Homo sapiens: one gene and its partners. The protein of the gene in region 1 purifies or fractionates together with the protein of each later gene. This does not show direct contact. Each region holds a gene or a part of one and is shown in the gene's direction. Other genes may lie near its edges. The genes, in order: ALCAM, COX5A, UGGT1, TSPAN15, RAB35 and NIPSNAP3A.

The links.
Region 2: the proteins of ALCAM (region 1) and COX5A fractionate together in Homo sapiens (co-fractionation; one large-scale study listed by BioGRID). This does not show direct contact.
Region 3: the proteins of ALCAM (region 1) and UGGT1 fractionate together in Homo sapiens (co-fractionation; one large-scale study listed by BioGRID). This does not show direct contact.
Region 4: the proteins of ALCAM (region 1) and TSPAN15 purify together in Homo sapiens (co-immunoprecipitation; one large-scale study listed by IntAct). This does not show direct contact.
Region 5: the proteins of ALCAM (region 1) and RAB35 purify together in Homo sapiens (affinity purification with mass spectrometry; one large-scale study listed by BioGRID and IntAct). This does not show direct contact.
Region 6: the proteins of ALCAM (region 1) and NIPSNAP3A fractionate together in Homo sapiens (co-fractionation; one large-scale study listed by BioGRID). This does not show direct contact.

What each region holds. Positions count from the first base shown.
Region 1 is NC_000003.12:105,530,909-105,534,408, forward strand, and holds part of ALCAM (CD166 antigen isoform 1 precursor), read left to right. Parts: intron 1-1,093; coding exon 1,094-1,158; intron 1,159-2,694; coding exon 2,695-2,782; intron 2,783-3,500. UniProt on the Homo sapiens protein: Cell adhesion molecule that mediates both heterotypic cell-cell contacts via its interaction with CD6, as well as homotypic cell-cell contacts. Promotes T-cell activation and proliferation via its interactions with CD6.
Region 2 is NC_000015.10:74,924,574-74,928,073, reverse strand, and holds part of COX5A (cytochrome c oxidase subunit 5A, mitochondrial precursor), read left to right. Parts: intron 1-1,186; coding exon 1,187-1,308; intron 1,309-3,500. UniProt on the Homo sapiens protein: Component of the cytochrome c oxidase, the last enzyme in the mitochondrial electron transport chain which drives oxidative phosphorylation.
Region 3 is NC_000002.12:128,174,700-128,178,199, forward strand, and holds part of UGGT1 (UDP-glucose:glycoprotein glucosyltransferase 1 precursor), read left to right. Parts: intron 1-73; coding exon 74-159; intron 160-2,114; coding exon 2,115-2,199; intron 2,200-3,132; coding exon 3,133-3,221; intron 3,222-3,500. UniProt on the Homo sapiens protein: Recognizes glycoproteins with minor folding defects. Reglucosylates single N-glycans near the misfolded part of the protein, thus providing quality control for protein folding in the endoplasmic reticulum.
Region 4 is NC_000010.11:69,485,965-69,489,464, forward strand, and holds part of TSPAN15 (tetraspanin-15), read left to right. Parts: intron 1-3,500. UniProt on the Homo sapiens protein: Part of TspanC8 subgroup, composed of 6 members that interact with the transmembrane metalloprotease ADAM10.
Region 5 is NC_000012.12:120,103,254-120,106,753, reverse strand, and holds part of RAB35 (ras-related protein Rab-35), read left to right. Parts: intron 1-2,804; coding exon 2,805-2,928; intron 2,929-3,500. UniProt on the Homo sapiens protein: The small GTPases Rab are key regulators of intracellular membrane trafficking, from the formation of transport vesicles to their fusion with membranes.
Region 6 is NC_000009.12:104,754,183-104,757,682, forward strand, and holds part of NIPSNAP3A (protein NipSnap homolog 3A), read left to right. Parts: intron 1-368; coding exon 369-518; intron 519-3,500.

The sequences.
Region 1 (3,500 bases):
TAATAACTGAATTCCAAATTGAGTAATAATTATACAAAAGCCAATTTAGTTTAGTTTGGTAATCAAAATTAAAAGTATTAGGTGGTAAACAATAAGACTATAAAAGAAAAAGTAGCTGATTGTTTAAATACATTTGCTTATAAGAAAATAGAATAATTTTGGTCCATGAGACTCACAAACATCAGTGACAATGAGGCAATATACTTTTTGTGTAAACTAATTGTTGGAGCTATTTAAAAAGCGCAAAATCCATCATTGATAGAAAATAGCAGCTAAGAATAAAATAACTTAAAATCAGTTTAAATAATAAATTGTTGCTGCAACTTTTAATCAATTGCTCCTGAAGTCTTTATTAAAATTTATGTTTCTTAGAACTACCTATATTTAAAATGTTTTTGTCCATCATCTCAGGTTCCACATTTGAAAGATTTTCTCACATTTACACTTTCATATTGTGACTTGGCTTAAGAGGTAAAGTTAGAGATATTTCAGAAATTTGGGTTTATAAATTCCTTAACTTGCTTTCTATTTCCCATGATTTTAGAACAGTGTTTCTCAAACTTTATGGTGACTGAGAATCCCCTAGAAACTTGTTTAAAATGTAGAGTTATGGGATTTTTTTTTTTCAGGAATTCTGATTCAGTAGGCCAAATAGGGCTCAGAAATCTGAATTTTAAACAAGTATCTTTGTGATTCTGGTTCATGTAAATTAATGTCTTCAGTTAATGAGCTGGAAGTTACTGATAAGTAAGAAGTGCTCATGGTAATCAATTAGAGACAATATATCCTATATAGGACATTAGCCCCTGTTTCACTATCAAATCCATATTCACTATTTATAAAGCATTCAGAAAGCATTATTTATATTTTATTCAAAGGAATTACAAGCACTGAAAATAATATTTAAGATAATAAATATTTGAAGGGGTAGACCTATAGATTCCCCAAATCCAGATTGTATAACGAAATCTATTTTTATTCTGTTGCTTATTCTTCTGTATTGAGTAAATGAATTGTTTTTGCTGTGAATCAAATCACAGAAGTCCCGTTTTTCTTACATATGTACTTAAAATCTTTCTCTGCTTAACTTTAGAGCAACCATCTAAACCTGAAATTGTAAGCAAAGCACTGTTTCTCGAAACAGAGCAGCTAAAAAAGGTAAGAATTGTTTTTGATTAATACCTTTATTTAGCCAGTGTTGTAAGTGCCTTCTTCTGACCTTACATTCCAAGACAAGTAAGAAAGGCTTTGCTCTTGTGGAGATGACAGTGTTGCAGCTACCAATCAGAAATTATCTACAAGGCACAGAGGGTACAACATGCTCACAGTCTCAGGTAACCATGAGGACATCAAGGAAGGTGGGGTCATTTCTGAAAAGAGGAGTCTTTCTCATTTGAATTAATGGATTGTTTAATAGAAGGATGAAGCCAGTTAGCATGATTCATGCCTGTAAGCCCAACAGTTTGGGAGGTTAAGGTGGGAGGATCACTTGAGCCCAGGAATGTACAGCATGGCAAGACCTTGTTTATAAAAAATATTTAAAAGTTAGCTGGGCATAGCGGTACATGCCTGTGGTCCCAGCTGCTTGGTAGGCTGATGCTTGGTAAGGAGGACTGCTTGAGCCTAGGAGGTCAAAGCTGCAGTGAGCCATGTTTGCACCATTGCATTCCATTGTGGACGACAGAGCCAGACCCTGTGTAGAAAAAATATATAGAGAGAATGATGAAAGATGAATAGATTTTCACCAAGCCAAAGGTAGAAATGGCTTTCCAACAATATGAAATAATAGGATGTGAAAGAGAACGGTGTGTTTGGGAAACAGCAAATTTTGGCATTGATGAAACTGGGTGCCAAGACAGAAAACAAGAAAGGATAGAAAGAGATGAATCTGGAGAGGCAAAGAAAAGTTGGATCATGACAAATCTTACATACTAAATAGGGAGTTTGGACTTTATTCTGTTGGCAAATTATGCTACTGAAAGATTGAAGTAAAGAGGTGAGATCAGATTCGAACAACACATTAGCAGATATGTGAAGGGAAGCTGTATTAAAGTGGGGGACAAAGTTGGAGTTCCATATTGAATAATAATGTAACTAAAATACCAAAGTTTTCCTTTGTTGGGAGATGGAAACCCAAGTCCTACATTCTTTGTGTCATATTAAATTTTACTGCATAAAATTATTTGATGAATACCAAATATTAAAGTTAAAATACATTTAAAGAAAGTGAGGGGAATTATAGAGCATGATAATGTATATCCTCTTGAAATATATGTAGTATGAAACTGGAGACACAGCCCCATTTTAACACCAAATTATTCTTCCGTATGAAGATCTATGATTCATGGTAATAGTCAGTGTTAATAGAGTAATGTTATTTGGTTAATGTTAAAAATGAATAGTGTCAAAATGAATTTGGCAATGCTTTCAAATGAATGTGATTTTATAATAGTGACACCATCTATTGCACATTTAAAAATCGTCAAAAGTATATTTTCAAATAAATTGTTAAAAAGGTCTTAAAAAGACATTGTTTTTATACCAGAGAGCATGTATTCAGTCTTTGGTCAGTGTTGGAAAATAAACGGGTCAAGAAACCCTTGGAATAACTCTGCATTGCCTGAGTTTCTGGAGTTTCCAAATTGACAGCCCCTGATTGAACCAAGGTAATAACATTGCCTTTTTATTTTGCAGTTGGGTGACTGCATTTCAGAAGACAGTTATCCAGATGGCAATATCACATGGTACAGGAATGGAAAAGTGCTACATCCCCTTGAAGGAGGTGGGTGTGAGGGCAGGAGGACAGGGAGTACATTCAGAGGACCTGTTCTGACTTTCTTTGTTCTAGGTATTCTTTAAACCAGTGGTCTCCAACCTTTTTGGCACCAGGAACTGGTTTCATGGAAGACAATTTTTCTTTGGATCAGGGTGGGGGGATGGTTTCAGGGTGATTCACAGGCATTAGGTTTATTGTGTACTTTATTTCTATTATTATTACATAGTGATATATAACAAAATAATTATGCAACTCACCATAATGTAGAATCAGTGAGAGCCCAGAGCTTGTTTTTCTGGAACTAGACAGTCCCATCTAGGGGTGATGGGACACAGTGACAGATCATCAGGCATCAGATTCTCATAACAAGTATGCAACCTAGATCCCTCATATGTGCAGTTCACAGCAGGATTTGCATTCCTGTAAGAACGTAATTCCACAACTGATCTGACAGGAGAAGGAGCTCAGTCAGTAATGTGAGCCATGGGGAGTGGCTGTAAATACAAAAGAAGCTTCTTGTGGTTGCCCACCGCTCACCTCCTGCTGTTTGCACCCATACCAGTCCTGGAGGTTGGAGACCCCCGCTTTAAACTATTCAGGATCTAAATATGTTGCCCTCTTTTGAGCTATGACTCTTATGCTCTGTTACTTTAAGTATGTACTAAATTAATACATGATTTTTTAAACATCATTTTCAGCCCTTGTACAGAAGAATCAAGAGCAG
Region 2 (3,500 bases), on another chromosome or scaffold:
CCAATAGAATTCTTACTGAACAATCTGGAGTAGAAGTAATAAAAAGAACAATTATGTATTCCCATTAAGAGAATCTTAAATTTTATTATGTGTCATTTTGTGCAGATCTGAAAGTAATCATGCCCAATCATTTTCTGGTTGAATGTTTATGAGTCTGTGTACTAATGTTTCTCTATAATATCTCCTTAATGTCCTCATTTAGGCTTCATTAACTCTACGCATTTCTCTGGCTGTTTTTAGGCTGTTTTCCAGTTGAATCTCTTTTATTTTGGTTTTTTTGTTTGTTTGTTTTGTTTTGTTTGAGATGGAGTTTCTCTCTTATTGCCCAGGCTAGAGTGCAATGGCGCGATCTCAGCTCACTGCAACCTCCACCACCTGGGTTCAAGTGATTCTCCTGCCTCAGCCTCGAGAGTAGCTGGAATTACAGGCATGTGCCACCACGCCCGGCCAATTTTGTATCTTTAATAGAGACAGGGTTTCTCCATGTTGACCAGGCTGGTCTTGAACCCCTGACCTCAGGTGATCCACCTGAGCCCAGCCTTGAATCTCTTTTAAAGCATCCAAAATGTGTTCATTGTACTAAGAGTTAAAGATAGGAGGGCCGGATGTGGTGGCTCATGCCTGTAATCCCAGCACTTTGGGAGGCCGAGGCAGGTGGATCACGAGGTCAGGAGTTCAAGGCCAGCCAGGCCAAGATGCTGAAACCCCGTCTCTACTAAAAATACTAAAATTAGCTGGGCTTGGTGGCACCCGCCTGTAATCCCAGCTACTTGGTAGGCTGAGGCAGGAGAATCACTTGAACCCAGGTGGCAGCGGTTGCAGTAAGCTGAGGTGGCACCACTGTACTCCAGCCTGGGTGACAGAGCAAGACTCCATCTCCAAAAAAAAAGTTAGGAGTTGAAAATGACCCTCTTGTTCTCAAAGGGGAAAAAAAAAACTCAGGATTTTTTCCTTCAATCTGCGTGCTGTTGCATAGTTCTTTCTTTCCACTGATTCACTAAGGGAGATCCACTGTGATCTTATTATCTAGAATTTGTTAAAGGTAGGTTTCTCTCATTTTATAGGTAAGAGAATGGAGACCCAGACAGATAAGATCATACATCAGTGATTCAGTAAAAATATAAATAACTCATAGTTTAAGTGAGGCTCTTCGAGGTTGACATGGCCCTTCTTTTTAATTTTGCAGGGATAAACACACTTGTTACCTATGATATGGTTCCAGAGCCCAAAATCATTGATGCTGCTTTGCGGGCATGCAGACGGTTAAATGATTTTGCTAGTACAGTTCGTATCCTAGAGGTTGTTAAGGTCAGTGAAATAATAATGCTAAAATTGTTCTGTAAATGAGTGGGCTATTGCTGAGGTATCAGAATATTCTGTATTTTTGAATTTGTTAAAATGCCTAAAATGAGTCCTTATATAACTAGAAGGAATGTACATTGCAGTTAAAATCTTTCTAGAGGCTACTTTGGCAGCATTTATTCAAGGCCTTACAAATTGTACATGATACACTTTTGTTCAGCAATTCCATTTAAGAATTTATCTTTTTTCTTTTTTCTCTCTTTTTTTTTTTTCTTTCTTTTTTAAGAATTTATCTTGGCCGTGTGTGATGGCTCATGCCTGTAATCCCAGCACTTTAGGAGGCTAAGGCGGGTGGATCATGCAATGTCAGGAGTTTGAGACCAGCCTGGCCAACATGGTGAAACCCTGTCTCTACTAAAAATATAAAAATTAGGCCAGGCGCGGTGGCTCACGCCTGTAATCCCAGCTCTTTGGGAGGCCGAGGCGGGCGGATCACGAGGTCAGGAGATCGAAACCATCCTGGCTAACACGGTGAAACCCTGTCTCTACTAAAAATACAAAAAAATTAGCCGGGTGTGGTGGCAGGCGCCTGTAGTCCCAGCTACTCAGGAGGCTGAGGCGGGAGAATGGCGTGAACCCGGGAGGCAAAGCTTGCAGTGAGCCAAGACAGCGCCACTGCACTCCAGCCTGGGTGACAGAGCAAGACTCTGTCTCAAAAAAAAAAAAAAAAAAAAAAAAATTAGCTGGGCATGGTGGCACATGCCTGTAATCCCAGCTACTTGGGAGGCCCAGGCAGGAGAATTGCTTGAACCCGGGAGGCGGAGGTAGCAGTGAGCTGAGATCGCACCATTGCACTCCAGCCTGGGCAACAAGAGAGAAACTCCGTCTCTAAAAAAAAAAAGAAAGGAATTTATCAAGGAAATAATAAAGGATATATAAAGATTTAACTACAAAGTGTATTCATCTTCTTGCTATTTGTCATACGAAATGTTAGGAATTCTTAAGAGGGAGCTTCCCAGAACTGGTTATACTACACAACTGTTGATACTGTAGAAATGTGTTTGACTTTAAACATATTTGTGTCGGCTGGGCACGGTGGCTCACGCCTGTAATCCCAGCACTTTGGGAGACTGAGGCAGGTGGATCACCTGAGGTCAAGAGTTCGAGACCAGCCTGACCAAGATGGAGAAACCCCATCTCTACTGAAAATAAAAAATTAGCCGGGCGTGGGGGTGCATGCCTGTAATCCCAGCTAGTCGGGAGGCTGAGGCAGGGGAATTGCTTGAACCCGGGAGGCAGAGGTTACAGTGAGCCAAGATGGCACCATTGCACTCCAGCCTGGGCAACAAGAGAGAGAAACTCCATCTCAAAAAATATATATATACATTATATGAAAACATAGGAGGATATATACTAATTTTCCTCCTTCTTATTTGGTCATAATTTCTGAGTTTATTTATTTTTTCGAGACAGAGTCTCACTCTGTCGCCCAAGCTGGAGTGCAATCATTGCGTGATCTCAGCTCACTGCAACCTCCGAGGTCTCCTGGGTTCAAGCAATTCTTCTGCCTCAGCCTCCCGAGTAGCTGGGATTACAGGCTAATTTTGTATTTTAAGAGACGGGGTTTCTCCATGTTGGTCAGGCTGATCTCAAACTCCTGACCTCAGTTGATCCGCCCGCCTCAGCCTCCCAAAGTGCTGGGATTACAGGCGTGAGCCACCACGCCCGGCCGGCACTTTCTTAGTTCTTTTGACTTCTTATTCGTTCCTAAGGAACCTTGTGACAGCACAGGTGTAACTATATATTACAGTGAAAAGTCTCCAGCCCTGGACATATGTATTCTCAAAGTACAGCTCTCCATGAAAAGATACTGTGGTCTGTAAGAAAGAAACTTAAGGTCCGTTAACAGCAAAAGTGTGACATTACTTTATCTATAATGGGTAAGATAATTAAGGGTTCTGTAGGCTATCAATCCATTCAGCACTGGTAGTTAATTCAGTTAAGGTCTCAAATTGGAGGCAAATGAAAAAACTTTTCCCGTTAACTTAATTATTCGTGTTGCCTGCTGGGCATGTCTAATTGCCTTCACAAAATTCTGTCATCACTACCTTCTTTTCCAGTAATTCTAGACTTTAAGATGTTCTGGATTTAGTCCAATTGCAGTTATTCTCAAGGTATTTCAAAAGCCTACCTTGAAC
Region 3 (3,500 bases), on another chromosome or scaffold:
GAAGTAACTGTTCCTCAGAAATAACATTTTGGTGTTTTGAAGAGAGCTAACTGGACTTTTCTTCTTGTCCTAGGGCTACTTTCAGCTGAAAGCCAACCCAGGAGCTTGGATCCTCAGACTTAGGAAGGGACGCTCTGAAGATATTTATAGAATTTACAGGTAGGAGTAAGTGATGCAGTTACATTATCCCAGAACTTTTAGAAATGAGCATTAGCTCTAATTGAATACTACCCTGGCAGTTAGCCAGGCAACATGAATTTAATTTGCAGTTGTATGTGATGAAACAGTGGTTTTTCCAGGAAATTAAATATGGAAGAATTGTTAGAATAGAATTAGATAATAAGAGGTATAGATGCTAATGAGTATAGTCAGGCTTTATTCTTTAATTATTCCTTTGTGCTAACAATATCCCAGAATCAAATCATTCTATCAGTGTGATGCGGCTCATAGATAGGCAGATGAGAAACTTGAAGAAAGGAGAAAAGAAAGAAAGAACAGCCACACTTTTCTGCCCAGAGAGTGTATGTGTTGACCCTGAGTGATTTGCAAATGCACAGTACATGGAAGCTTTGGTCTTGAAGCTGTGCTGTTAGTGCTGGTATTCCTTGGTCTGTGGTGGCATAGTAAGAACATTCCCTCTATAGCCAGCTTTTACCTTAAGGTTTACTGCACATATTTATTAGTTTAAAAATAATTATGTTGCCTTTAAAAAAGTTTGATATAAATTCTGCTTAACACAATTTAAATTAGTTTTAAACTGTGTGAAGAGGCTTCCCGTCAGGTTGTGTAGGGGATGATTTCCATTAGGGCACATTTGAAGCACTCTGTAGTATGTCCTTGCCTTAATTAGCTCCGTAGCGACACACATGAAACAGTGGATTAGTGCCTGGTTCTTACCCAGGAAATAGAAGAATTCTGTATTATAATAACACCATTGTAAACAGTAGAAGGTTTTTTCCCACATAACATTTTCCTCAGATAAGGTTTTACAAAATTTGGGATGCACTTCCGAACTCCTTCCCTTTTGGATGCCCTGGCCCTTGCCAGCCCTCCCCTTCCCAGGAGCATGGTGCCCCCTCTTCCTAGCTGTTCAGGGCCCCACCCCCATTAGAATCTTCCTTTGCCTGAGAACCCTACTCTCTGCTAGATGACAGCAAATGCAGTGAATTCATGTTGTAATTATGACTTTCTGCACCTTGAAATTTGGTGACTGGAAATTTTAGGCATTGCTGTTGATTAGTAGGGAAACATACATTTAATTTTTCTTCCTCTGCTCCTGTCTGCCTGCAAATAGAATTTGTTACAGTTTTTCTGGTAGCGTATAGACACCAGGTTGAGTACAGGGCCTATTGTTGACTGATTGTTGCCTCCGGCAGAAAGAGCGAGCAGATTTCCTTTACAACACTATTCCAGTTAAAGAGTAGTGGCCGGGAGTGATGGGTGATGGCTCACGCCTGTAATCCCAACACTTTGGGAGGCCGAGGAGGGTGGATCACTTAAGGTCAGGAGTTTGAGACCAGCCTAGCCACTATGGTGAAACCCTGTCTCTACTAAAATACAAAAATTAGCCAGGCGTGGTGGTGGGTGCCTGTAAACTCAGCTACCTGAAGGCTGAAGCAGGAGAATCACTTGAACCCCGGAGGTGGAGGTTGCATTGAGCCGAGATTGCTCTACTGCACTCCAGGGCAACAGAGCAAAACTCTGTCTCAAAAAAAAAAAAAAAAAAAAAAAAGAGCGGAGGCAGTGTGGTTCCAATAATGGTTCAGGGGGCCTGTTCCCTGCATTCCTTTATCGAAGGCTCTGTGCTTGGCTCAGAGCTTGTGAACACAGGCGGTTGTTTAGTACTCACCATGTGGTTACCACACATGGGTGCCTCTCACTACGTGATGGGTAATTTGCAAGAGGACTCACAAAGGAGGTTTGGGCATGCACCTTATATAAAGAGAGGTTTCAACACGTGCTTCTGTGCAGCTCGAAGGAGCTTAAGGAGCAAGAAGATAGCTGGATCTGGAAAACTCCTTTATGAGAAGGATGATGGACTCAGATGCTCTGAGAGCATTTGCTGCCTTTTGAGAATTGTGCCTTGTAATATTGATCTTTCTTTTCTCGCAAAGCCACGATGGCACTGATTCTCCCCCTGATGCTGATGAGGTGGTTATCGTCCTCAACAACTTCAAAAGCAAAATTATTAAAGTGAAGGTGAGTTTGGTAAAAGTAGTGGCATTCTGTTATTGGACAGCTGTCATTTAAAAATATGTATCTTGGAACCAGCCCAAGAGTCTCTTTGGAATTTGCTATGGCAATTATAGGGATACTGCTTTAAGGCAAAATGTCTTTGTAACTGTGAGTTTGTGGCTTCCCTCAACTGAAAGATTGTACCTTTTGGGTAATCTCGGTGTGCAGAACATGTCCCATCTTATATAAAATATTCTCATAGATGCTATGTTGTTTATATAGCCACAATTCATAGTGTTGTTGATGATTCTTTTCTCAATATTGGGGGAACTGGCAATGGAAATTTTCAACAATAATAAAATGATAGTCCTATTTAATTTCTTTTGACTTGTACTTTCCGTTCTCTGAATGTTGAAGCTCTTAGTGCCTTAAATTCAAGTACAGTATATTCTTGAAGAAAGAATCATTACACACAGTGAAACCTAAAATAGGCCATCCATTGTTGAGAAGAAAAATGGTCACTGTACTGCCAAGAAGAAACCCCTGTTTGTGCTAGTGAATCCTGAAAACTGGTCATAACATGAAATACCTCCCTCCCAACAGCTAGAGCCCCCAGCAGCCACACTCTTCCCTGGAACTAGCTGTTGACTCATTGAATCGTGCTTCTGGTTTCACTGCACAGTTGAGTTTGCGGCTCTTTGCCTATGTTGCAAGCTGAAAATGGGGTTCATCTAATTAAAAGAGGTTGCTGTCTCCTCACATAAGGTTATGATGTGAATGTCCTGGCGAAGATACTTCTATTGAATCCTTCTAGACTCTGGGTGGGGTTGTGCCTGTTTGTGAGAGAATTGATTGATAATTCCCTATTGATGACAGGCTCACAGTGTATATCCAGTGAGAGGCAGTTTTATGCCTGTGAGACATACTGGGAGTAAGGTTTATCACATTTGATTGCAGGTTCAGAAGAAGGCAGATATGGTGAACGAAGACTTGCTGAGTGATGGAACGAGTGAGAATGAATCTGGATTTTGGGATTCCTTCAAATGGTAAGTTGACATTGTAAGAGTTATGTTTTTAAGGAAAAACTGAGATATAAGCACCATCCATCCCTCCTTTTTGCATCTTGTGATTCTGTCTGGGCCTTTCACATTCTACTTTGTGCAGCTACATCTCACACTTATATTTGGCATAGATGAGTATTTTCCACTCGATTGATCCAAAAGAGGTTCATGTCTCCTAGTGGGGAAGTTACTTCTGCTCCATACTTTGTGACTCTCATTGCCTGTACCTGCTCTTTGGAAATTTGACTGCTCCCTGCTCAGTTT
Region 4 (3,500 bases), on another chromosome or scaffold:
CAGAATCCGGGCCCCTTAGAGCCAGAAAGGTTCTCGTGGCTCCCGGCTCCAGCTCCTTCAGGCAGGATGTACGCACCTCATACTAGCTGTGCCACCTTGGGCGAGTTACTTGGCCTCTTGGATTATTAGGGGACACCTAGCTCACAGATCTGATGAGAGAATGCCTGTGAAGGACTGGGCACGGTTCTGGCACATAGTGGTCAAGGCCCCACAAGAAGCTGGTGGTGGAGCAGGGCTGACTCCAACCCAGGGCTCCATCTTTCCTCCCATAATCTTCTTCCTTGTCCTCATCCTGCATTGCTGCCATAGGTGGGGCTTGAGGAGCAGGACATGTTTGCAGAAGCCCCATTCTCTGTGTCCACTGCCTGGCCTGTACCCCTCCCTACCCCAGACAGCTTGGTCCTGGTGCATCTGGACAGTTGCTGCTGGGACATGCGTCAGAGCTGTGAGCCAAGTTATCTTTTTTTTTAAAAATAATGTTTGTTTATTTTTTTGAGACAGGGTCTCACTCTGCCACCCAGGCTGGAGCAGTGGTGCAGTCATAGCTCACTGCAGCCTCGAACCCCTGGGCTCAAGTGATCCTCCGGCTTTAGCCTCCCAAGTAGCTGGGACTACAGTCATGCACCCCTGTGCCCAGCCAAATTATCTTTCTTTTCAGCAGTTGCTCTTAAGGCAGCAGGTGCTGTCCCACACCCTGGGTTGTGCAGACCTCTCAGATGGCCCAGGATCTGGCCCTGTGAAAATGTTCATGGGAGTGCCTGTGATTCCAGCCCAGGTGGGAGCAGGGACCACACCAGTTCTGCTGGGGCCTCCTGCAGTGGGACCTAACCACAGGCAAGTCTACAAACCTGGAATCCAGAGGTCTTCCTGTTTTATGAGCCCCAGGAAAGGGGCTTTATTCCATTTGCCCATGAGGCTGCTTCTCCCTTTTCCTCTTTTCTACCTGCCCCTCCCTTTGCCTCTTTTCTGCTTATCAGAGCCTCTCTTCTGAGCTGGCAGATCCAGCATGCTGGTTCACTTTCCAGCAGCCTTGAGGGGAGAGATCTTTATTCCATTTGCCCATGGGGCTGCCTTTCTGTGCAGCCACCAGAGCTCCTGGCCAGCCTGCGGCTTTCCAGGGGCTACGGGTTAGTGCTTTCCTGGCTGGAGCCCAGGTCCAGTTTGTGGCCAACTAAACAGACTCCTGGATATAAGGAGGAATCTCCACCAGCCCGTGACCCCGGGCATGGTTTCTGCTGCTAGGCATGGCTTGACAGTCAGACTGAAGTGGCTTCTCCACTCATACAGGGGCAAGTGGCCATCCTATCAATGGAGTCATGGAGGCACACAGGAGTTAAGAATTCCCCCGAGAGCACACAGCAAGGCAGAGGTGCCTCAGGAATGCTTCCCAGTCCTGACTTGCTACCTGCCCCTCCCTGTCCCTCTTTTCTATTTGTCAGAGCCTCTCTTCTGAGCTGGCAGATCCAGGATGCTGGTTTACTTTTCAGCAGCTGTGAGGGGAGAGATCTTTATTCCATTTGCCCATGGGGCTGCCTCTCTGTGCAGCCAGCAGAGCTCCCGGCCGCCCTGAGGCTTTCCAGGGTTAGCACTTTCCTGGCTGGAGCCCAGGTCCAGTTTGTGGTCAGCAGCGTCCACGGCCTTCATAAACTATCCTCCAATGATGGGCAGCAGTTCTGGTTTCTAGTGCATTGCTGCAGAGGCCATCTGATTTGTCATTTTCCAGTGCCCTGTAGGTCAACAGAACATCACCTCCTTCTTTCAAGTGATGGAGCTGGGCTGAGATGAAGGCTTTGGCTGGCGGAACATCCAGGGGCCCTTCAGTGCTCACAGCTTGGGTTTCCGTGGGCCTGAGGTCAGGCCTGACAATTTCTCATCATCCCCAGACCCTGCAGATGCTGTAGTCCGTGAAGGGTGCTCCTTCCCCTTGGGTGGTGTCCCCTCATGGGTAGGGCCTTGGTATGCAGCCCAGGAAGGGTCCTCACTGACGCCTCTCCGCTGTTTGGAGGCTCAAGCCATGATTCGTCATCTTGAAAACTTAAAAAATGAGATACAAAATTATAAATGCAGTAAGATCGCTACAATGAAAAAAATAGGTCTACAAAAAGACTTAAAGGAATGGAAATATCAGCATATGAACTCATATTTCCTCTGAGGGATGAGACTAGGGTGATTTTTCTCCTCCCCTTTATATTTTTCCTTGGCTCTCAATTTTTTTTTATAATCAAGGGGAAAATATCACAAAAAGAAAAATAATATCCCTTCCAACTCTAATGTGATATGATTTTGTAAAACAGGAGTCAGGCCAGTGGCGGGGATGGGGGAGGAGCGGCCTGGCTGTTGATGATGGTAGGAAGGGCAGTGTATGATGGAGAAAAAGGTGAGGAGCAATCAAGGTCAGCTTCCAGGAGGAGGTGATTTCCCAATTCCATTTTTCCCTGATCAAGAGGATTTCTCTGAGCCACAATGTAACAAGTTCAGTCTCCAGTGCCATGGGCCCTGGTAACTCTGAGTATCTACTTATGAAAAGTCAGAACAAGTCATTAGGTATTGGGGGAACCCACCCCCAATATTTCACCATAGGTTCTTTCTATTTTCCATAAGTGTCAGCCAGCTGAGAAATAAAGAGAAAGAGTACAAAGAGAGGAATTTTACAGCTGGGCCGCTGGGGGTGACGTCACATTATCAGTAGGACCATGATGCCCACCTGAGCCTTAAAGCCAGCAAGTTTTATTAAGGATTTCAAAAGGGGAGGGGGTGCAAGAACAGGGAGTAGGTCACAAAGATCACATGCTTCAAAGGGCAAAAAGGAAAACAAAGATCACATGCTTCTAAGGGAAAAATCAGAAACTCCTCATAAGGGTCCAACAAAGATCACAAGGCAAAGGGCAAAAGCAAAGATCACAAGGCAAAGGGCAAAAGCAGAATTACTGATAAGGGTCTACCTTCAGTGGTGCACATATTGTCTTGATAAACATCTTAAACAACAGAAAACAGGGTTCGAGAGCAGAGAACCAGTCTGAACTCAAATTTACCAGGGTGGAGTTTCCCAATCCTGAGGGTACTGCAGGAGACCAGGGTGTATTTCAGTCCTTATCTCAACTGCATAAGAGAGACACTCCCAGAGCGGCCGTTTATAGACCTCCCCCTAGGAATGCAGTTCTTTTCCCAGAGTGTTAATATCAATATTCCTTGCTAGGAAAAGAATTTAGCGATATCTTCCCTACTTGCATGTCCGTTTATAGGCTGTCTGCAAGAAGAAAAATATGGCTCTTTTTGCCCAACCCCGCAGGCAGTCAGACCTTATGGTTGTCTTCCCTTGTTCCCTGAAAATCGCTGTTATTCTGTTCTTTTTCAAGGTGCACTGATTTCATATTGTTCAAACACACATGTTTTAAAATCAACTTGTACAGTTAACACAATTATCGTAGTGGCCGTAAGGTGACATACATCCCCAGCTTACGAAGATAACAGGATTAAGAGATTAAAGTAAGACAGGTGTA
Region 5 (3,500 bases), on another chromosome or scaffold:
AGTTGGGTGTGGCGGCATGTGCCTGTAATCCCGGCTACTCAGGAGGCTGAGGCAGGAGAATCGCTTGAACCAGGGAGTTGGTTGCAGTGAGCCGAGATCTTGTCACAGCACTCCAGCCTGGCGACAGAGTGAGACTCCGTCTCAAAAAAAAAAAAAAAAAAAGAAAAAGAAAGTGATTCCATAGCTGATGTCTCTTGGTGGAGAAGTGGGTTTTGCCCCCTTTGTTTCCTTGACACTGTCCCTGCAATCTCACTAGTGGTGTGGTGTTAGAAAGAGATGGCTGCTCTGTGTGACCTTAGCCAGTTCATTTGTAAAATAGAAGCCTCAGTTCATGTGTAAAGTAGAAATCATAATGGTCCTTTCCCCATGGGGTTGTTATAGGATGACCTGAGATAGTGCAGGTTGCAGTGCCTGGGACTAAGTAATTGCTCAATAAATACCAGCTATTTGTTGCGACTGGCTGTTAACCTTCTGTTTAAGAATGATAGCTGATTAACAGCCTCTAATTATGCTAAAAAATGTTCCTCTTCCTCCTTAATGGCCTCCTCCCTCCCCATCCCAATCTGTGTTCAGTGCTTGGAGGGCTTGTTGTTGCAATCTCTTCCCACCTTTCCATTTCTACGACCAGCATCTCAGTTTACTGTTGGTTCTACCTGGAAGCATTACGGCAACCCCTACCCACCCTGAACCGCTCATGTGTGTGTCTGGTAGGGTCTTTTCTCTGTTTAAAAACCTCAGTGGCCCCTCTCACCTGCACAGAGTTTACAGTAAGATTTCTTCACTTGGACACTGTTGACCCTTTGGGCCCTGTGATTTTTTTTTTTTTTTTTTTTTTTTGAGACGGAGTCTCGCTCTGTCGCCCAGGCTGGAGTGCGGTGGTGTGATCTTGGCTCACTGCAAGCTCCGCCTCCCGGGTTCACGCCATTCTCCTGCCTCCCAAGTAGCTGGGACCACAGGTGCCCGCCACCACGCCTGGCTAATTTTTTGTATTTTTAGTAGAGACGGGGTTTTACCATGTGAGCCAGGATGGTCTTGATCTCCTGACCTCGTGATCTGCCCACCTCGGCCTCCCAGAGTGCTGGGATTACAGGCGTGAGCCAGCGCGCCGGGTCTGGGCCCTGTGATTTTTGTTGTGGGGCTATCCTGCGTGTCGAAGGATGTTGAGCAGCATCCCTGGCCTCCACCCACTAAATGCCAGCAACACTTCCCTCCCCCTGCTGTGACAACCAAAAATGCCTCCAGACATTGCTGAGTGTCCTTTGGAGGGACAGTCATCCCGGCTGAGAACCACTGCGCTCGTAGTCTGTTTTCAGTTCGCCTTTCTGGCTTCCTCCTACCCCCTGGTCATTCTTTTGTTCTTTGGCTTGCTTGGTTCGTTAGCCACCAGCTGTTTCTGGGGAGCCTAACTGTGCTAGGCAGTGGGCTGCACTCCTTGGCGTTCCCCTGGCTGGAAGACCCCGGGTGCTGGCCGCTTTTCTGAATGTGTTCTGGTTGCGTATCATCCTCAGCTATTTGCTTTTGAGTGGGATGTCGTTCCCCTACCTAATCTCAACCTTTGAAGTCTTACCTGTTCTTTCAAGCTAGGCCCAGATGTGACGTCCTCCCTGAAGCCTGCCTTGTTCCCCACCCCACCTTGGAATTTGACCTTTCCTACGCCCTTGCCACATTTCACATAATTGTGTGTGTGTGTGGTGTCTCCTGCACTGTTATAGCATAAGCCCCAAATGGAGTGAGAAGCTGTGCTCTTCCTAGTGTCAGGCTTTGGAAAGCTGGACTGGGCAATTACACCGGCTAGAAATTCTCCTCAAATCCATCTTTCAGGCCGGGCACGGTGGCTTGTGCCTGTAATCCCAGCACTTTGGGAGGCTGAGGCAGGCGGATCACTTGAGGTCAGGAGTTTGAGACCAGCCTGGGCAACATGGTGAAACCCCGTCTGTACTAAAAACACAAAAATTAGCCGGGCGTGGTGGCGCATGCCTGTAGTCCCAGCTACTCAGGAGGCTGAGGTGGGAGGATTATCAGACCCTGGGGGAAGGTCAAGGGTGCAATCCCACTTCACTCCAGCCTGGGCGACAGAATGAGACGCTGTCCCCCCCCCACCAAAAAAAATCCATTTTTCCCACAGATGCTGCAAGAGAGCTATTTAAAATGCAGCAGCTCATGCCACTGATTAAAACCCTTTGGTGCCTCCCCAGCACACACGAGAGAAAGTCCACGTTCTTGGAAGTGGCACACAGGTCCAAGATCTGGCCTCGCCACTTTCTGCCTGCCTTGGGCGGCAGGCTTGACCTCATGTGACCGCCCCCACTCACGGCTGTTTTTGCTACTGTCTCCCCTGCCTGGAGCAGTGGCTTTCAGACTGCAGCTCATGACCTATTTGTGTGTTTGGAAGTGAATTTTGAGGGCCCTAAATTTTTTTTGACTTGAATAGAAAAGAAAAACCCAGAGTGCCCGTAGGTCTACCATTCTCAGACATAGCTGGTGTGTCCCCATCTAGCCACTCTAAAGGAGCCTGTCCCACTCCCGCCAGTCCCATCCCGTGTTATTTCCTATGTGTCACTTTTCACTCTCGGAAATTGTCCTCTTTGTTTGTTTGCTTGCATCCTGTCTCCCTCCTTCACTTGTGTGTGGAGGGGCCTTGTGAACAAGGATGTTCAGGGCTGTGTCCCTGGGACCTAGAATGTACCAGGCACATGTAATGAGTCGGGAGGGTGGGGGAGCCTGGGGGTGTGTTGTGTGCAGCGTGGGGCTCAGGGCCTGGGAAGATACCGCGCTGGGCCTCGTTAACTGCCCTGTGTGTGCAGGCAGCTACATCACCACGATCGGAGTGGATTTCAAGATCCGGACCGTGGAGATCAACGGGGAGAAGGTGAAGCTGCAGATCTGGGACACAGCGGGGCAGGAGCGCTTCCGCACCATCACCTCCACGTGAGTCCACACGCCCACTCCCACCCAACCCGCGCCACTGACCTGTGGACACAGTTGAGCGACCGGTGCCTGGTCATGGTGGAAATGTCACTGGTGGGTCCCTGAGGCTGTCGGGAAGTGAGCCTGTTGTTGGCTGTAGTAGGTGGCGTTTGGCTGCACCCTTCCTGGTCCTGAAGATGTGAGGGGGGTGCTGTGGGGGAGTCGCTGAGCACCCTGGCTGGAGTCTGGCCGGACAGTGGCCATGTTCTATCTCCTTGGAGAGTCAGCCGACCCTCCGGCCCACTGTGCCGTCACCTTACAGAGAGAGCAGAATAGCATTTGCCTCGCTAGGGGGTTGCGAAGTGCCTTGCCCACCCAGGACTTAGTCGCTGACAATTCCTCTTGGTAGGTGTCAGTTATGGCAGCTGGAGTTGGCCTGTGCAGGCTCCCGTCACCTGCACTGATGCCTTGGAAGTGACGCTGTCTAGAGACGAACACGGTGCATGTCAGCAGGCCCTTCCCTACCCTTAAAGCTGTTCCTGGGAAATCCGGCCGCCCACCGGTTGCCCACCTTTGTGGCTGAGCTGCAGGCC
Region 6 (3,500 bases), on another chromosome or scaffold:
CTTTTATTCTTTTATTTTCTAAAAGCATAGACTTTTGCAGCTCAAAATTCTATATCATTATACATTCTCAACAGTTTTTTAACAAATGTTATAGATTAAAAATATTTCAGATAATAGTTATAATAGCTTCCAGTTCTTTTTCTTTGTCATCTGTATGATTAAGCATAACAACTCACTCTTAAACATGGGCAAGGACTTTCTAAGCATAAAAGCAGAGAGTGCAAATATAATAAACATGTCTACATAATATGTATGCATGTCTGATCCTCCAAATCTGTGTGTGTAGATAGTGAAAGACTATTCACTGAGAAACGTGATTGGATATTGCTTGAATGTTTTCTGAAAAATTCTTTTTCTCCCTATTCCAGGAGTCTATGAACTGGCCACTTTTCAGATGAAACCTGGTGGGCCAGCTCTGTGGGGTGATGCATTTAAAAGGGCAGTTCATGCTCATGTCAATCTAGGCTACACAAAACTAGTTGGAGTGTTCCACACAGAGTACGGAGCACTCAACAGAGGTACAATTGTCCATTTCTTCTTATATGAAATTGTAATATATATTGTGACCTAAGTTCCTTGGGTCAGGTTCTTTCTCATTATAGAGTATGTTTTATTATTTATTGCCAAATGTTTAGTTTTTTGTAATTTTTAAAATTGAGAAAATCTGTTTTACATCTTATTTATTTAGAATGTTAACTTATGAAACCTTCAAATGCTGAATAGCTGTTTTCCCTGATACATCAAAATGATTAAATTTTTTAAACTGAAGGAACCTCGGCTGGGCACGGTAGCTCAGGCCTGTAATCCCAGCACTTTTGGAGGCTGAGGGGGTGGATCACCTGAGGTCAGGAGTTCGAGACCAGCCTGGCAAACATGGTGAAACCCCGTCTCTAGTAAAAATAGAACAAATTAGCCAGGCATGGTGGTGGGGGCCTGTAATCCCAGCTATTCTGGAGGCTGAGGCAGGAGAATCACTTGAATCCAGGAAGCGGAGGTTGCAATGAGCCAAAATCGTGCCATCGCACTCCAGCCTGGGTGACAAGAGCAAAACTCCATCTCAAAAAAAAAAAAATGAAGGAACCTCAAGAAATAGTCTGTTACTTTCATCATTTCTTTTTCCTCTGAATGTACTTTTATTGATTTTTTAAAAATAATATTATTTGGGGTAGGGAGATTATCTCTAAGCAAAAAAGTAATATATGTTTTGTATAAATATGAAAACCCCCCTCATAAAAATTTACCCATTTTCCACCAGTTTTATATATATCTATATAGGGAGATATAGTAAATATGTATATATATTGAGGTAAATTTATATATGGATATAAATTTATTTAATAAAACACATACTTGGGGTATTTAACTTGTAATGTTGAAAAACATTTCAATCAGAATTTCAAGATTTTTTGTGGCAAATTCAGAAAAACATTTGTAAAGTTTATCTGAAAGGATAAAAGAGCTGATGAGGTAGCTCATACCTGTAATTCCAGCGCTTTTGGGAGGCTGAGGCTGGTGGATTGCTTAAGCCCAGGAGTTCACGACTAGCCTGGGCAACACAGCTTGTCTCTACAAAAAAAATTTTAAGAATTAGTTGGGCATGGTGGCAAACACCTGTAGTCCTAGCTACTTGGGAGGCTGAGGTGGGAGGATTGCTTGAGCCAGGAGTTCAAGGCTACAGTAAGCTATGATTGCACCACTGCACTCCAACCCCTGAACGACATAGTGAGACCCTGTCTCTTAAAAAAAAAAAGTAACGAAGAAAGGATAAATGTCTAAGAATAGCTAACAAATATTTGAAAGACTCATCATAATATCCTGTTGCCTTTCTATTATCTCTTTATGTCCAATGGACATCTCAAACCTAATATACCCATCTTTATGCAGAAATTCAACTTCTTGTAATAATCTATCATAAGAAAATAGAATATATAAAAACAGATGTATATTCAGGTTGGAAAATACATGGAGGAGAAACTGTTATGAAAATTATTAGATGCCTATCTCACACCATATGCGAAAATAAAGTCAAGCTGGATTGTATATTTTAATGAAAAAAATTTAATTCATAAAATTGGTAAAACAAAATGTAGATGAATTTATTTAATAATGTGGATTGGGACTATATTTGTAAGCCAAAAGCAAATGAAGAAACTATGAAGAAAAAAAAATCAACTTATGATTTTATTATACAAAGGCTCAAACTATCTGGATGCCTGAAAATCACCATAAATGAAATTCAAAAGCAAAAATAAAAATAAAAATTTATGCAAAAGTAGACATGCACATGGCTACTAAATATATATTAAAGAAAATGCATATTAAAACAATAATGAGATGCCATTTCTTTACCTTATAAAAGGTATACTTACATGGATATAGTATTAGGTCAGGAAAAAATAAGTACTCAGATACTGTGTAGGGTTCATATTAGCTTAATCTTCCCCCAAAATTTGACAATAAAAATAAAAGCCTTATTTTTATTGTTTTTGCCAGTATTACTTCTAGAAAATATGCCTGGGTGTGTATGTGTATAGGTGTGCTAAATTATACAGAAAAGAAATTTGAAAGTATATAACATACATAGTAGTCATATTTCAGTGAGATAAATGGTTAAGTCTCTATGTTAATATTCTTTTTTTTTTTTTTTTTTTGAGATGGAGCCTCGCTCTGTGGAGTGCAGGTACGATCTCAGCTCCCTGCAACCTCCGCCTCCTTGGTTCAGGCGGTTCTCCTGCCTCAGCCTCCCAAGTAGCTGGGATTACAGCTGTGTGCCACCATGCCCAGCTAATTTTTGTATTTTTAGTAGAGACAGGATTTCACCAGGCTGGTCTCAAACTCCTGACCACAGGTGATCCGCCCGCCTCGGCCTCCCAAAGTGGTGGGATAAGAGGCCTGAGCCACTACACCTAGCCTCTACCTTAATTTTCTATACTGCACATATTAAGTTTTATTTTTTTAAAAACTACAGAAAATGTGTGTTCATACACTTTTTAATCTTAAATTCATTCTCAGTGTTAGGAGAATTGGTAATCAGTACATCATTTCTGGAGGACAGTGTATACTATATACACTATATGTAAGTACATATATATAAGACATGCTCTTTGGTTCTGTCAACTTAAATTCTACTTTATATTAAGGAAATAATCAGATTCAGACTGCCTGGGTTTGAATCCCAGGTACACTACTTACTTTTTGACTTTGGGTAAGTAAACCTCACCATACCTTAGTTTTTTCATCTATAAAATGATAGATTATTATGAGGACCTAGATTATTATGAGGATTAAATGAGTTAATACATTAAAATGCTTAAAACTAGGCCTGACACATAGTTATCATTCAATAAATGTCAGTAGTTGTCATCGAAAGTATTATTATAAACACATAGTTGTGCTCAAATGAAGTTTATGTTAATATTGTTTACATTAAAGAAACATTGGAAATGTAGTATGACCTTCTTTATGTAATACATACGTAATACAGAAATCGATATACATGT